Regions from separate parts of the Homo sapiens genome. Here region 1 is linked to region 2. The links come from fine-mapping of genetic effects on gene expression. A gene starts in region 2. The other region holds a variant in brackets. All regions are shown on one strand. Distances are from middle to middle.

Region 1 (5,387 bases), 59 kb after region 2:
AGCTGTATTACGAATTCTGGCCAGACTTCAAACTCAGTCTCATTACCTCTTAAGTATTTATCAAAATTTGACTGAGATAAAGTATTTAGGAAGGATTGCTTAAAGGATACAAGGTAGTGCTGTTCTTACAGATAGTCTGAAATTCACCTCTGAATCAAGCATTATTAATAGACATCTGGATACCTGGACTGCATTGTTTTTGACCCCTAATAAAATTGCTTTTACTAAATTACGCTGATACTAAAATACTATCAGTCTGTAGTAATAACAGTCGTCATGGGAAACTACCCTATTTGGATCTGTTGTTAGCTTGTTATCAGAGTCATTACTTACTTCATTATGTTTTCTTCTTTATGAAGCCCCATCAAATTTCTAACAAGTTTTGGATTTTTCTGTGTATCAGTGTAGCATGCCTGATCAGCTTTCTTTTCCATATTGGTTGTTTGAAACCTTAGAATCACATTTAACAATCTCCCATGGAAACTATGTAGGCCACTGTGGCATGCAGTTTCCTGACTCTGGGTTTAATTAACGCTCTTTAGCCTTAGATGCATTTTTCATAAGCTTCCTAGAACAGGACAGGCTAGAAACTCACTTAATCCTAGTAAGGGTTAGTAAACGATTTCTATTTTATAGATGAGGAAACTCAGAGAGGCCTAATTATTATGGGGCAGAACTAGGACTCAGACTCAGATAGTCTGGCTCTAGGTCTTGCCCATGGTCTTGTCCACTGTGCTATGCTTCCTCTCTAGTCTGAAGGTTAAGAATGACTTGGAGAATACCTATTCCCTGCCTGAAGCAATATTGAGCATAAGCCCATATGTATATGTGTGTTTGCTAGTTTTAAGGTCTTTGTGGATGATTATTTCATACTATAAATAATAAGCAACTTCTCGAGGCTTGCCTTTTTTCAAGACTGAGTCTAGCTCTGTCACCCAGGCTGGAGTGCAGTGGCGTGATCTCGGCTCACTGCAACCTCCACCTCCCGGGTTCAAACAATTCTCCTACCTCAGCTTCCTGAGTAGCTGGGATTACAGGTGCATGCCACCACGCCCAGCTAATTTTTTTTTTTTTTTTTTCCAGTAGAGATGAGGGTTCACCATGTTGGCCAGGCTGGTCTTGAACTCCTGATCTAATGTGATCCTCCTGCCTTGGTCTCCCAAAGCACTGGGATTATAAGTGTGAGCCACAGAGCCTGGCTGAGGCTTGCTTTTTCTGTCCAATTAATTAATGAAGTCTGAGAAGTTATCATAAAACAGTAAGTATGCTGCTGGGTGCTGTGGCTCACACCTGCAATTCCAGCACTTTGGGAGGCCAAGGCGGGCGGATCACTTGAACTCAGGAATTCGACCAGCCTGTGCAACATGGCAAAATCCCATCTCTACAAAAAATACAAAAATTAGCGGAGCATAGTGGCACACGCCTGTAATCCCAGCTACTTGGGAGGTTGAGGTGGGAGGATCGCTTGAGCCCAGGAGGCAGAGGTTGCAGTGAGCTGAGATCATGCCACTGCACTCCAGGCTGGGTAATACAGCAAGACTCTGTCTCGGAAAAAAAAAAAGAAAGAAAAAAAGAATAAGTATGCCTATGTAAGTCTTTTTACCTGGAAGTTTTCTGTTTTTTCCCCAAGTTTGTGAAATAAGAACCTAAATATTTATGGCTAGTGAGTACCAATTTAAGTTTAGGATGCAATGTGGTCGGCTGAATTGTGTTAACTTAAATTGGTATATGTGCTGCCGAAGCGAGCACATGTTAACTTAAATTGGGTAGTGAGGTTCTGATGATGCTACTTCCACTGATTCTGGACATGACTGAGCAAATTTCTTTCATACTGCTTTTCTTCTGTCTCTATAGTAGAGTTAATTAATACTGTTCTTTACCTGTGCTGAGAATTAAGTGAAGTATATGTGAAATCTTAGTGCTTTTAAGTAAAATGGGAGTATAATTAAAAATATTATTAGTTAGGGGGAAAAACCCAACCCTTGAATCTGAGGCTTCATTTCAAAAATTTATCTTTTTCTCTTACCTGTTACACAGAAATTCAATACAATATTCAGTTCAACTGAGTAAAGAATACAAACAAAGGCCGGGCATGGTGGCTTATGCCTGTAATCCCAGCACTTTGGGAAGCCGAGGCAGGTAGATCATCTGAGGTCAGGAGTTCGAGACCAGCCTGACCAAAATGGAGAAACCCCATCTCTACTAAAAATATAAAATTAGCCGAGCGTGGTGGCATGCGCCTGTAATCCCAACTACTCGGGAGGCTGAGGCAGGAGAATCACTTGAACCCGGGAGGCAGAGGTTGCAGTGAGCCAAGATCGTGCCATTACACTCCAGCCTGGGCAAGAAGACCTAGACTCTGTCTCAAAAAACAAAACAAAACAAAACAAAAAAATGTCTAGACGTTAGTAATTATTCTTTGTGATACATGGAATAGAAGTCTTCATGTTTTTCTGTCTATGAACTAGGGGCCACCATCATCAGAATCATTTGGGCTGCTTGTTAAAAATACTAATTACTAGGCCCTACTTTTGATGTAATGAATCAGAATCTCTGAAGTATGGCCCCTGGGTTCTGCACTTTCAGTGGCATTCCTGGTATGTTAAAATGTTGATGCACATTATAGTTTAAGAATTACTGTTTTAGTGCTGGCCTGGTAAGTATTGTTTTGGGACCTCTTCCCCTGAGGAAGGCCTATGGGTCTAGCAGTACAGTAGATCCAAAGCCAAATTATCTGAGTCACCAAACATTTAATGGCAACTTAAGATTACAAAAAGGTCCTGTATTTTTATTTATCTCGGTCTTGACGGTCTGAATTACTGTGGCCTCCATGTAAAATGTGAGGCAGTTGGTGAGGACTGGCTTACAGTAGGCCTAACAGGTCATCCCTCAGAACGACAGAGTTTGAGCAGTTAGGAGATTCTTCCCTACTCCTGACTTTTCAGCCTTGGGAGATTTGCACTCATTTCTCATAGGATTGTATTTTTCAAGTTAGTGTCTGTTTAGACTTTGATCCAGTAACTCTATCTCCAGTAGTTTGCCATATTGCAGCATTTTGAATAATCTGTAGAGGAACTCTCAAATTTTTTTCATATATATATAATTTTTTTTTTTTTTTTTGAGATGGAGTCTCACTCTGTTACCCAGGCTGGAGTGCGG[T/C]GGTGCAATCTCAGCTCACTGCAGCCTCCTCCGCCTCCTGGGTTCAAGTGATTCTCCCTCCTTAGCCTCCCAAGTAGCTGGGATTACAGACATCTGCCACCATGCCTGGCTAATTTTTGTACCCTTTGTAGAGATGGGATTTTGCCATCTTGGCCAGGCTGGTCTCAAACCCCTGGCCTCAAGTGATCAGCCTACCTTGGCCTCCTGAAGTGCTAGGATTACTGAGCCACCGTGCCTGGCTGAGATTTTTGAATTTTGTGAATCCCTATAGGAATTTTTCTTTTTGGTCATTTGGTTAAATTGTTTACATTACATATGGGAGAAATAATTTGAAGAAAAAGCATTTTATTTTGATGAGTATATTATTAAACTATGTATTATAAAGTTGAATACCTTTAAGATATTACTAGTCCATAAAGACAAACTGAATTTTCTAAGTTAATAAGATAAATGCAGTGTTTAATTATGTAATAAAAACCATACTTTACAAATTCTAAAGTACATGTGCCTTAAGGACTGCATATATAGGTTAAAATTTAACGTTTAAGTTACATATAAAAAAATGTGGGAGAGAGGAGTTGCTTCCCTGACCTGATATTTTGAGAAACTTGTATTCTGCTCTTTTAAAAATATCAACTTGTTTTTGTTTTATAATGTTCAAGCTTTGTTTTCAAATGAAGATCTAAATGAGGAGGTTTCAGGCTGCTATTTATAAACACTTAGGAGCAAATTAGTCCCTCAGTGCCCCCCCTCCCCACACACACACAAACAAAATCAACTAAATTAGATATAATTATCACTGTTTCTTTTTTTTAACCCGGGCATTTCAAATACTAGAGACATTTTGATAAGACATTCATATGTATACATATACATATACACATACACACATTTCTATTAGAATAATGCAAGTTATAAATGTAAAGATTATCTTGAGATAAAATTTACTGTTTTAATATTTTATTAATTTGCTGTATTGCAATGTTCTATATGCTTTTCGTCTTTAACCACCAATCCATTATGAGTGCAATTTAAACAATCTGTGACTGAGAAAAACCATTTAAATCTATATAGTCAAAAACATCAGGGTAACTACTGCTATTGAACTGGATGATAAGGGCCTTAAGTGGCTAAATCGTGAATCAATTCATCTGCTCGCTTAGAAACTAAAATGGAAGCCCTCAGATTGTCCTGTTTTAAAGAAAATGTTTTTTGTTTGGTTATGAGTTTTTTGGGTTTTGGGGGTTTGTTTTTTTTTTTTTCTTTTGAGACAGAGTCTCACTCTGTCATCCAGGCTGGACTGCAGTGACTTGATCTCAGCTCAATGCAACCTCCACCTCCTGGGTTCAAATGATTCTTCTGCCTCAGCCTCCTGAGTAGCTGGGACTACAGGCATGAGCCACTGTACCCGGTCTGGTTATGAGTTTGAAATATAGAAATTGAAACAGGGACTTATTGTTGCCTTTAATAAGTTGCTGTTGGAACAACTCGTGCATAAATAAATGCCATCATATAGACATACTTTTGAGGTAGGTACCAGGATATTTATTGCCACTTTATAATGATGACAAAAACAATAAAGAAAACAATAGGCCAGACACGGTGGCTTATGCCTGTAATCCTAGCACTTTGAGAGGCTGAGGTGGGCGGATGACTTAAAGTCAGGAGTTCAAGACCAGCCTGGCCAACATAGAAAAACCCTGTCTCTACTAAAAATACAAAAATTAGCTGGGTGTGGTGGTGCGTACCAATAATCCCAGCTACTTGGGAGACAGAGGCAGGAGAATCACTTGAACCCGAGAGGCAGAGGTTGCAGTGAGCCGAGATACGCCACTGTACTCCAGCCTGGGTGACAGAACAAGACTCTGTCTCAAAATACATGCATACATACATACATACATACATACATACATACATACAAATAAAACAATAATAAAGGTAGAAAGGGAAAAATGGGCAACAGTGAAAATGTCCCTCAATAGTGGACTAATAATTAATGGTGCAGTGGGCATTACAGTGGAAAAGTGCAGTCGTATATATCAACATGGAGAGCAACTTCAGAACAGTATATATAATATGAAACTGGTTTTATATGAAATAAGTGTGTGTGTGTGTGTGTGTGTGTGTGTGTGACCCATCTGGACAGATATATACCACATTACTAATCATGGCTATTTGGGGGATTGGGAGTTGAGATGGAGAAGGGTTGGATAATTGGGGGAGATTTT
Region 2 (5,387 bases):
AATTGTAATGGCACCACTGCACTCCAGCCTGGGCAACAGTGCAACACCCTGCCTCAAGAAAGAAAAAATCCTTGCCACTGTTTTCCTCAGATACCATTTCTGCTTTCTTTGGTCATACTTTCTTATGAGTTATCTGCAACTCCTGTTTTTATTTCCTCATTTCTAATCCATCCTCAAACATCTGCAGTATGACTTTTGCCTTCATATCTCTACTGATTTCTCAGCAATAACATCAAATACCTCCATGTTACTAAATCCTGTAGACACTTTTTAGCCCTTCTCCTGTCTATGGCAACTAATATTGTTGATCACTTATTTATGCGTTTAGTCAACATATATTAATTTGTGTGTGTGTGTGTGATGGGGCTAGCCTCATGTGTGCAAGAGTGAACAGATTGGTATAGTCCCTACTTTCATGAAACTCTGAAAACATCCTAAAATATACTATTCTGCTTTTCCTCCTACCTCTCTGACTACTCCTTCTCAGTCCTCTTTGCATTCTTGGGTTTATCTGTTTCTACCCCAAGCACTCACTCTCCACATTCTTCATGAATAATGTTCATGCCCACAGATTGAATTATCATCTGTATGCTCACAGTTCACAAATTTAACTCCAGATCATTCCTTATCTTCAGACACATATAATCAAGTACCTCTTGGGTAGAGATCTTCACTCTAACCTAACGTATAAAATGAACTCATCACCTCCCTATTCTTCCCCAAACTTCTGCCATTTCTTATATTTTCCTATTTTCAGTGACTAGTACCACCGTTCCTCCCTTGCCCTAACCTAAAACATAAGCCTTATCAGCCCTAGTGTCAGACTTCCTGGGTTCAAATCTTAATTCTACCTTTGTGTGTGTGTATGTGTGTGTGCGTGTCTGTGTGTGTGACTGCAAGCTCCGCCTTCCAGGTTCATGCCATTCTCCTGCCTCAGCCTCCTGAATAGCTGGGACTATAGGCGCCCGCCACCACGCCCTGCTACTTTTTTTTTGTATTTTTAGTAGAGATGAGGTTTCACCATGTTAGCCAGGATGGTCTCGATCTCCTGACCTCGTGATCTGCCCGCCTCAGCCTCCCAAAGTGTTGGGATTACAGGCGTGAGCCACCGCGCCCAGCCATCTTAATTCTACCTTTTAACTTCTCTGTATCTCTTAAAATAGAGGAAGTAATAGTACCTACTTGGTTATCAGGTGGTGCGGATGTAAAAATGTACTTAGCAGAGTAACTGACATAAAATCATAATAAATATCAACAGTTATTTGTTTAAACCACCATCATCGTGTGGCTGGATCATGTCAACAGTTTCCTGAGTGGTCTCCCATTAGATTATGAGCCCGTGATGGTCCCAAAAGGTGAAAAGAAGGGAGATTGGTCCATACTTTCACCCAAAAGTGGAAGAGAATGAAGTTGGAAAAGCTTTCGGATTGATGCTATATTTTGAAAATAGTATTGGTTCATTTTTCCTTAAAATATATGCATTTTTCAGAGAAAGGAATGGAAAATAAAACAAATATAAAGAAGATAACATTTGTAATCAGCACCCAGAGGGAACCACTAATAGGTATATATACTCCTCTGGATTTAGAGTTTTGTATCTTTTTTTTTTTCTTATTTCAAAGCATTTTTCTGTATCATATTTTTCAACAATATGATTTAAAAGGCACATCCCAACATAGAAATAAATACATGTTCATTGTAGAACACTTTGAAAAATACAGAAAAATATTAGGAAGAAAAATAAAACTCTCACTATCCTGCAATAACCACTTTTAACGTTCTGCTGAATATCCAAGCTTTTTTTTTTTTTTTTTCTTTTGAGATGAGTCTGGCTTTGTTACTCAGGCTGGAGTGCAGTGGCGAGATCTGGGCTCATTGCAACCTCTACCTCCTGGGATCAAGCCATTCTCCTGCCTCAGCCGCCTGAGTAGCCGGGATTATAGGCGTGTGCCACCACCCCCAGCTAATTTTTGTTTTTTCAGTAGAGACAGGGTTTCACCACATTGGCCAGGCTGGTCTCAAACTCCCGACATCAGGTGATCCACCCACCTCAGCCTCCTAAAGGGCTGGGATTGCAGGTGTAAGCCACCACGCCTGGCCTATCCTAGCCTTTTTTTTCTATACATATATAGTCATACTGTATACTGTATTGTTTGGTGTCCTTTTTTTGCTTAACACTTTATGAATTTTCTGTCATAAAATATTCTATAACATTATGCAGCTATCTGATTTACCATAACTGTTTGCATTCTCTCACCTTATACCTGGCTTTCTAATTTCCCCTATTCCCCTATTTTAATAACAGAGGAAATAATAATACATGAGTATGTTATACAAAATTTTAATGTACTTCTGATCACTTTTTTAAGAATGAAGTTTTAAAATACTGAAACACTTTTTGACTCACAGAGTTCATAGGCAAAATGTGAGAAAAATCATCACTTTGCTCTCCATCCTTCCTTACACCCTGAAATTAACCTTAGGGACAGCTAGTTCATTTAACATCATCAATCTTGTTCTCCAGTTCCAGGTCCTGGAATCTAGCTCTTAGTGTCCGAAAGAAACTTACTTTTGTGTAAGCACACCTATTATATACTAGGCACTTTACCTAATTTATCTGGTTTAAACTTCACATGCCCGAGAGAGATACTATCATTGTCTTCATTTCACAGATAAGAAGGTTGATGAGACATTAACTGTCTCAGTCACATTCAGGGTAGGGATTCAAACTCACATCCAATGCCTCCTCAACCTCTTTTACGTGCAGCACTATCCTCTAGCCCCACTGCCCGTATATAGGCCTGGGCTATATCACCATTGTCCGCCCTTGAGCCTGGAAGGAAAATGAGCTGAGGGGTTTTGTTTTTTCAGAAAGGAACAGGATATTTCATCATCTCTATGTTTACGTTTTTCAGAGAATTTCTGTGCGAGGAAACAAATCCATTGTCAGCTTTTTAAAATATATCCCTTTGGAGTAGCCACTTAACATCCTCTGAGGCCCAGATGGGCTAGCTTGCCGGGACCAAAGGAAATCTTTGGGTCTGGAAGGCGACAAGAGATCACAGGCTTTCTAGGTCTACCGCGCACCCCGATGACGTCACGCGGCGACGTTCTCTGACGTCAGAGTTTCCTGCCCACCATCTTTGTCCCTGGCAAAGTGGGTTTTGCGCAGTGGCTTAGACCTAGAAAAGAATCGTGACGGGCAGGAAACCATTACACCACCACCTGGGCTGTGCTCTCCGGCTCCCGCCGCCACCCCCGCCCTCGCCTTCGCCTCCGCCTCCGGTGAGTTCAGGGCGGTTGCCTTTAGGGTGTGTCCCTAATTGACGGGGTCGGGGACGGAGAGAAGGGTAACACCAGGCTGGGTCGGAGACCGGCGGAGGCGAGGAAATCCTAAGAGCGTGACCGTTGATGATGCAGGGAACCGTCGGGTGTGACCATTGAGAGGGAAAAGGTTGGAGAAAGGGTCTCTACCATGATGCCTGTGGTGCGGTGAGGGAATCCTCGGGTGTGGCAGCAGGTAGTTGGGGGCAGGAGGGGAAGATGTGTTTCGGAATTGAGGGTTTAGGGGGACCAGAGGCCAGGGGTGTGGCTGATAGAGCCTGGAGGCCGTGGGGGGAACCGTCTTTCTTCCCCGCTCGGCGTCGTTCACTGAGAGGCTGAGACGTGTCCAGCAAGCCAAAGGGAAAAGGGATTCCCTCAAAGGTTTGCTCATTGATGGGCGAACGTCGTCTCTCGGGTAACTTGAGGGTAAGAGACAACCTCTTCCCTGCTCCGTAATGGAGGAGCATATCGCTAGAATCTTGACCACCTGGGGAAAGAAGAGGCATTCCTTACTCTTGGAGGAAGGAAAGAGTAACCTCCAGAATTGACCCGATGTAAGAGAGGGGGAAGCAAATGGGGGCAAATCTTAACCCAGCATCTTTTTTTTTTTTTTCTTTTTCTGGGCTCTGCAGTAATGGTCTGGTTTGGGAAAGGCTGTAGATTAAGCTGAAAGTAAAGAAACTGGAACGTCCTGTTATTTCCTTATCATTTGAATCCAAATCATTTGTTCATGCTGCTTGTTTTCAAGAGTAGTCTTCTATTGGAGGGGTGGGGTGGGGGGGGACAGGCCTTTATTGAACTCACGCGGATGCTTCATTAAACTTTTGACTTTTATTTTATTTTATTTTTGTATTTTTAGTGACAGGGTCTTACTGTGTAGCCCAGTCTGGTCTCGAACTCCTGGGCCCAAGCGATCCTCCCGCTTCGGCCTCCTAAAGTTTTGTGATTACAGGCGTGAGCCAGCGCGCCCAGCCAAACTTGACTTTTGAGAAGAAAAAATGTTTTGAAAACTGCCAAAGACTTATCATAACCATTGTGGTTTAAAAGAAAGTAAATGCATTAAGCTTAGAAAGGCAGAATGACTAAGAAAGAAGGTGGTCTCAATGAGAATCAATTTAAATGATTAGTTACCTTCCTTGTATACTTCAATTGCTTAGCCTCAGGGTACACTTACAAAGTAGTAATAGAAAGCAGCAGATGAAGGAGGTGCAGCTCTATAAGAAAACGTGTTAAGACATTCCAGTGATGACTAAGCGTGCTGGTAAGGTGAGAACTGTTTGCAGTATCTTAGCCGTTGAAACTTTCAAGGAAGCAGAAAGGATGATGTATAATGCAAACATCCTCACTAAAAGCTGGGTGGTAAAATCAATATAAATCTAATATTCTGACTGTGTATGAAGAAACTCAAGGAAGTCCAGTTCTTTCATTCTTTCTTTCCTTAAAAGATCCATATTTTGAAATACTAACTTTTTAGGCACAGGTTTGAACGAAGCTGAGCAAGGAATATATTAAATAGGGCACGTTCTCCTTTCTCTTGTCCTTTCTTTCCTTCTAGCCTTAGGTTTTCCAGAGTTTAATGTTATTTTGGTTAAGAATTAGATGTAAAACTTTTGAACTCCTTTGCTTCGTTATAATATTAAGAAGCTACTTTGTAGTCTGTTATGTTTAAATAGAAATCACAGGTGATTTTAGCTTTTGTGTCTCATAATTTCTTATGAGCAAGGTAATACCTGATGATGCTATTGTCTTTGCATTATTACTGAATATTTGATTAGAAATGAATTTGGCACCTCTCACCTTTATAATAAAAGATTACTGGAATGACATTTCTGCTTTATAATTTGGTTAACTTTGGCCAGTTTTTCACTATGAGCACTGAGCTTTGTAAAGTCCCACTTTGTGAAAAGAAGGGTTTAGTGACTTTACAAACTAATTTAGCTTCCCAGAGAGCCATTTGAATTAAGACCCTATTAATTTTTTTCTGACCTTATTCTACCCAAGGTATTAATCTTATTTTGCTGCTCAGTTTCTCTTTTGGGGAACTGGAGGGAGATATAGGAGAG

Direction of the effects. Positions count from the first base shown, and alleles are read on the strand shown. Sizes are in standard deviations (SD) of each study's normalised expression.
For the expression in sun-exposed skin of the gene that starts at base 3,179 in region 2, C is the high allele of the variant in region 1 and T is the other (small effect, 0.33 SD a copy in GTEx).

What was found.
Region 1: its variant is fine-mapped to the expression of AP2B1 in sun-exposed skin (GTEx, PIP above 0.99). The same link has a PIP of 0.9 or more in unexposed skin.

The regions. Positions count from the first base shown.
Region 1 is chr17:35,643,484-35,648,870 of GRCh38, forward strand. The region is part of intron 12 of AP2B1 (adaptor related protein complex 2 subunit beta 1); the gene reads left to right. Among named protein-coding and RNA genes, the nearest start is that of AP2B1, 59 kb to the left of the region's middle. The variant T/C (reference allele first, on the strand shown) is at 3,160.
Region 2 is chr17:35,584,144-35,589,530 of GRCh38, forward strand. AP2B1 (adaptor related protein complex 2 subunit beta 1) reads left to right here and starts at 3,179. Exons shown (of 22, transcript NM_001030006.2): 1 at 3,179-3,285. RefSeq lists enhancers at 2,986-3,155, 3,125-4,324, 3,586-3,695 and a silencer at 3,236-3,355.